Homo sapiens: one gene and its partner. The protein of the gene in region 2 purifies or fractionates together with the protein of the main gene of each other region. This does not show direct contact. Each region holds a gene or a part of one and is shown on either strand. Other genes may lie near its edges.

What was found.
Region 1: the proteins of SLC38A12 (region 2) and DLK1 purify together in Homo sapiens (co-immunoprecipitation; one large-scale study listed by IntAct). This does not show direct contact.

The regions. Positions count from the first base shown.
Region 1 is NC_000014.9:100,729,863-100,733,608, forward strand, and holds part of DLK1 (protein delta homolog 1 isoform 1 preproprotein), read left to right. Parts: intron 1-2,179; coding exon 2,180-2,321; intron 2,322-3,746. UniProt on the Homo sapiens protein: May have a role in neuroendocrine differentiation.
Region 2 is NC_000017.11:74,837,773-74,840,396, forward strand, and holds the end of SLC38A12 (transmembrane protein 104), read left to right. Parts: 3' UTR 1-1,114; coding exon of another isoform or gene 1,115-1,329; 3' UTR 1,330-1,981; downstream 1,982-2,624.

The sequences.
Region 1 (3,746 bases), on a different chromosome or scaffold from region 2:
CTCAGTCCCCAACATTAGTAAAGACGGTACAGATAGGGAAACTGAGGATCAGAGAAGCACAAGTGTCTGCTAAGGAATATGAAAGAAGTTGGGCAAAAAGCCAGCTACAACCCTTTCCCCCAGCCCCAGAAAGAGAGTTAATTTTTATCTTCGATTGCATCTAACATCCTTCCTTAAGGAACACCTAAGAGCATTTTGTTGTGGCCCCTGCCCTGTACAGCCAGGGCAGCCGTGGTTCTGAAGCTGAGCTCCCTCCCACCCCAAATTGTCTCTGGTCCTTAATTCCAGCCCCTGCAATATGGTGCAAGGTTTACCCGCAGCTGACTCATGCTCTGGCCAGCATCTCTGCTGCCCCTCACAGAAGCAGCGGCAGCAGCTCTGAGTCGTTTGAGGATCTGGGGGATTCCAGCAAAGCCACCATTTGGGATCAGGGTTAGGCTTTTAGCTTGGAGCCCATCTTTTTGGTATCTAAATGCCGTACACCCTTGCTGAAATTTTCCGGACAAATGCCTCCCTTCTCATGGGCCCTTGGTATGTCCCCTCCCCACCAAGTTGACAAAGGCAGCCAGCTTGGGGATGGCCAGAGAGTCTGGGGTCCCAGAGAAGACATAGCCCTCCCTCTCCCTTTTTGCCCATCTTTGAGGCTGTCGTGGCCACAGCTGCTGTCCCAGCAGAGACCCCCAAGCAGCCTTTTCCTCAGAGCAGCTTAATTCACCCCTGTCTTGGGGTTGGAGGCTCAGGAGGGCTGATCCAGGATTGGCATAGCAGGGAGAGCTGCAGGGACAAGCTGGGGGTGGTCGCCAGCTTTTTAGCTTAAATTTAAGATTCTGAGTGACAGGAGAGTCGGGTGCAGAGAATAAGGAGCCTGACGCGGAGGCGCCACGTGCTAATGCCTTGCCGGTGCCGTCCCGTAAAGATAAATCCTCTTTATGTGTCCTTGCACCAAGCCGGGCTTCCATGGAACACCACGGGGTAGTCCATCAACACAACGTTCAGGCTCTTCCTCCTTGATTGATTGCAGTCTCCCCTCCACGAGGGTGTGGGTCTCTCTGAGAGGGGGAAAAAATACGCACATGTGTGGCCTCAGCACGGGGGATTTCCCCTCCCCCCACCCCCTCCAGCCTGCCTTAGCTTGCTGTGTCTCTCACTGGCCCTGGCTTTCTGTTTGGCAGGTACAGCAGCTCAAATTATAGAAAATCAAAGCTGAAGAGTCCCTCAGAGATTGGCCAGGGAAAGACCCTCTTTTTATAAGTAGGGAAACTGAGGCCCAGAATGGGTAGGAGCTGAACTCTGCTGCCACATGGCAGCAGGCCGGATACAGGGCAGGACAGGGGTCCCTTCCTGGCCCCACTGGGGAGCTGGGGTCTCCATCATCAGAGAGCCCCTGACTCAGGCCCTTGTGTTCAGCTCATCCCTGGCTTGCTGAACCTGAATAATGAAGTGTGCGTGATGGAAGGTGTTAAAAGATGGTGGGAATATACCAGTGCTCATGGAAACCTGTGCTGATAGGAGAGCGCTCAATAGTTCTAATTTCCCTGGCTTTAAAAGATGAAGCCTTTTTACCAGGGACCCCTTGAGTTCAGAGCCTGAGTGCAGAAAGAGAGACCACAGGGACACGTGGTAGTGCTGGGGTTAACAGGTTTCTTGATTCCTGACGGAGGGGGGTCGTTACATCTCCATCCCCCCCACTGCCCCTCTTTGATGGAAAAGTATGAAGAGCTGGTGGTTTTTCTGAGGGTTGGGCTGTATTCATCCCCCGGCTGGCCAGGACCCCTCCCCTAACAGGAGAGGGTGGAGATGCAGTCTTGTCTGGTGGAGACAGGCCTTAGGGAATCTCAGCTAGGCACGCTGTTGCAGGGAGGGGCATGATGTCCACAGTGAACGTCACGGACATGTCGCTGGATATGGGGTGACCTGGTGCCAGGCAAAGGGAACAGCTATCCTGGCCTGAATATCAGTGGCCACGACTTTCTGATCTGTGACCTTAGGCAAGGAAACCCCTTCAGCTTCCTGAGCCTCAGCTTACTCACTTCATGGGTTTTTTTGAGGGGGCTCCCTAAACCCTCTTACTCCAGACCCCACTCGGTGGCCATAGAGCCATTTTAAAGCCCACTGGGGCCCGCATCACGCTCGTGTATGGAGAGGAAGCTAAGTTCTCGTCTTCCCCGTCACCCCGCAGATGTTCGGGCCTGCTCCTCGGCCCCCTGTGCCAACAACAGGACCTGCGTGAGCCTGGACGATGGCCTCTATGAATGCTCCTGTGCCCCCGGGTACTCGGGAAAGGACTGCCAGAAAAAGGACGGGCCCTGTGTGATCAACGGGTAAATATCCTTCCTGTGTGTGATCTAATGAATGCTGCTTTTCATGCGGCCACCAAAGACCCTTTCAGCCTAACCCTGCTGGACCTGTCGTCTGACAAAAGATGAAGTAAGCGCTCATCCTGGCAGCCCCGTAGGGGACCGCCCTGGATGGGAGTATTCACGGGGGAATGTGTCATTGCCATAATTTTTTCAAATGATCCTGAAGGCGATTTCATATTCCCCTGATGTTCTCAAGTCCCGATGCGTGTGAGTGACAGTCGATCGGAATGATGAACTGACACTCGGAGCTGCGTAATTTTCTAAAGGCAACGTAGTAAAAGATTGGAGCTCCGCGGGGCTGAGGCTGTTTGTGAAACCCACTTGCTGTATCTCAGGGGGTGGTTTTGGGGAACTGGTGGGCTCTGCAATTGGATTTTCTGGGATGTCTGTGGAGGGAGTTGCCAGGCTGAGAGGTGAAGAGATTGGGCTTCTGCCAGCACGAGAGGAGGTGGGCCAGCTGTCGGCTATCCTCAGTGGGGAAGGGGGCTTTGGGACTCCTGGGCAGCGGACATAACAGACAGAGTGGCCACTGTCTTCACTTGGACCTCCCTGAACAATGCTTCCCAGCAGCTCAGCCTCTGCCCACCCATTATCTCTTTGGCGGCCCTGAGCCATCCCTCCCCGCTGGATGGGGCTTAGCCTGAAGCCAAGGGAGATCTTGACAGAGGCAGGGTCCGAATGTAAGAATCCAAACTTGAACCCAGTCCTGGGCCTGTAGTTGGGGGGCAGGGGTGTCCCTTTCCTCTGAAGAAACAGAAGCTAACATGCAAATAAGCTTATCTTGACCGGACATCGCAGGGTGGCACAGAGACCCCAGTAGTCTGTAAGAGCTGTAAACAGACATTAACGGGGCTTCCAAAGATCAGTCTTCAGACGGGGTCAGAGTGGGGGCTGGTGAAGACTGAACTCCATTTCTGCTTATTAGCAGGAAGGAGAAAAACAGAGCGAGACCTTTAAAATATTTTGCTTTTCTCGCGAATGGACTTAAACCAGTGTGTCAAAATAGAGCCTAAGGCCCTTGAAATTCCTTCAGAGCCCAGCTCCCATGCAGCCCACACCCTGAAGCAGCAGTGCTGATTTCTTGTGTTTACTGCCCCTTCTTCCCCGGAGTTTTGCCATTTATCGGATGACAAAGGGCTCGCTCGTTTAAAAGCACTTACATTAAATGCTCCTTGTACTCCACTTTGAGCAAACAGCTTTGGTTTGCAAGCTGCACTTGGGTGAATGGACCACTATTAAACAGCCTGGTACAGACGCTGGCTTGTGCCACCGTAGACAGACCTCGTATTGCTTTCTCTTTGAGAGTCCCCAAGCGCTTCCTGCACAATAGCCTGTGGATCCACACCGCTAATAATAATAATAATAATAATGAGGGTTGGCGGCAAC
Region 2 (2,624 bases):
GGCCTCCTGGGAAACACAGGTGACTCGAATGAACTCTGCATTTTCAACGTGCCTTCTACTGCTTCAGGACCTGGGGGTCCCCCTGACCCTCACTGGCTTGCCCCCAGCCCTGGGCCTGGCCCCACCTGTCCTGGAGCCCAGAGCCCCTGGCCTGGAGCTACCTCTCTGGGGTGGGTCTCAGGCCCCACCCCTCCCTCTTTTGAGTTCAGTGCCTTGCTCAGCCCCTCCCCTGTATCTCAGCGTCTTCAGACCTCTGACAGAGCGACGATGTAGGGTCTCCCGGGGCCCAAGGTGGTCTCAGGGTCAGGGGTGGGATTTGCAGGGAACTCGGGGAGCCCACGGGCTGCGCCACCTCTGCCCTGGCAGCTGAAGCCTGGGAGAGTCCCTGCGTGGTGTAATTGGCCTCAGCCCGCTTTCTCTGTGCCGTCGCACCTCAGTGTTTCTCATAGCTTGTCCCCACGTGTCACTTTCCATCCACGGGAAAAACAAATGCCCCTTCTCCATCTATCATTGCGACTTCCTCCCAGGAGGCCTCTCAGGTTGGGTAGAGCAGGGGCCTGCAGTGGTCAGGCCAAGAGCAAGGAAGACCTGGCTGCCCCACTGTGGCTGAAAACTCAAAACATCTGGAACTACCCTTCTCCAATTACGTTCCCTCTTGCTTAAAGACAAAGCTAATTAAATCATCCTGCCACCCGAGGCTCCAAACCAAATCTTGGACGCAAATTCATTAGCTTCATAAAGCCCAGGTTGATTTATGTGACAGTCTGGAACCGCCCAGCCATGGAGTCGGTGGCCGTGTTCCCTGCCCTGGAGGGAACTGGCCAGCAGTGACCACATCGCTGATGCCAAGTGGGGACCCTCACCACTGCCGTTGTCTAGCTGCTTTGCTCCTCAGTGTCCTCCTGCTGTAAGTCAGATGAGGTCACCTTCCTCTCCATCGATGCCAGGCTTCTGCCGCTGACGGCCAATGGGGCTTGGGGCCAGGGGCAGAGAACCCCAACAGCAAGAGAGCCCCAGGTGATGCTGGCTCTCCACGTGCATCCGGCACGTTTCACTGCAGCCATCATCAACTTGGCAAAGTAGGCAAGCTCAGCTTGTGGTTTCCATTTTGCAGATGGGCCCCCGGGGTCAGTGATGGGAAGAGCAGAAGAGGATGCCAGCCCAGCCTGGCCCAGGAGCAGGTGTCGTTGTGGAGGAAAGCTTAAACTCAACAGCCTCTACCCAACATCTGCCACCTGCATGGCCCCAGATGCCCCCGGTGCAGGCCAGGTCAAGGTGGGAGTAAACTTTCTTTGCCTCCCTCCCCACAGAAGCACCAGACCCACCTGAGCCCCAGAGCCTCATGCCAGCAGCTCCTGGCTGTTCCTCACCTGAGGCTAGAGCAGCAGCTGCCAGCTTATAGATGGGGCGGATGGCAGGTGATAGACTGGGAAGCACTGCTGGGTGGTGGAGGTGGGCAGTGGCACCATGACGGGCCCCTAGCCACACAGCTGTCCTCACTACGGGGCAGGGAGCAGCCTCGGCAACAGGCAAAGGCCAGAGTCAGAGTGGTGGGGAGGACAGGGGCTGCTGCCCCGCTCCTGGAAAGCCACTGCAGAGGGGCAGTGGCTGGCAGTGCCAGGCCTGGGGGAAGTGGAAGCGTCCTGTCTGGGGGCAGATTCCCAAGCAAGGGTGACCCATGGTTAAGGGCCACTGGAAAGCTGGAGAGAGCTTGGGATCCCTTCCACCTGGGGCCAATGGTGTTGATTGCAGACTGGAGGGGTAACCTCCGCTGAGGGTCATTATGTGCCAGGCATGGCATTGGGTACTTTCTGCATTGGGACCAGGCAGCCGGGCCTGCCATTTGAGGCAGCGAGCCTCCGTGACCTGTCCTCCCTCATTTGTAAAGTGGGGTAACAGCTATGTCACTGGCCAGTTGTGGGGATTAAAGTGCTGAGCTTAGTGCCCAGCCCAAAATGCTCAATAAAGCTATTCAGTGATACCTGTTTCCCACATCACTCACCAGCCATAACTACTTGTAGCCAGGGACCCCTGACTCATTAGGACTCAAGACACCTACCTGGTTTCATAGCCTTCTAATGAGTTGTCGCCGGGTTGCAATTCAGAAACAGAAAATTGGTCTGAATTCTCTGGAGTCTAGAGGGCTTTGGGGATAGGGGTTGACTCTGGTTCCCCAGTCCCTTAGGAAACTTGAGGACAGTCCTCCCCTTTCAAAGAGCAGGACAGGCTAGGCTGGAGGGTCCTGGCTGAAGACATCAGCCTGCCCTTTTGCAAGCTCTGCCCTCCTCCCCCACACACACCTGGCTCCCTGCAGAAAGCTGGCTTGGACCACAAGCCGCTCAGCTAGACACAAGGAAAAACAGCTACAGCAGCAACAGAAGGGACCCCAGTTAGTAAGATTTTCCTGCTCTGAGGCCAGCCACAAGGGCCTCCCTCTTTCTGTACCTCACCCAAAGAAAAACAATGGTATTTGAGCATGTGGGTCGCCAGGCCCTTGTTTATGATGCTTTCACATCTATAGCCTTACTTCTCTCTCCTCTCCCCTGCCACGCTTTCTTTCCTTCCCTTGGTGGTGCAGGAAGCCAGGCCAAGCTAGTTCTGAACTCAGGATGCAGCCTTCCTGC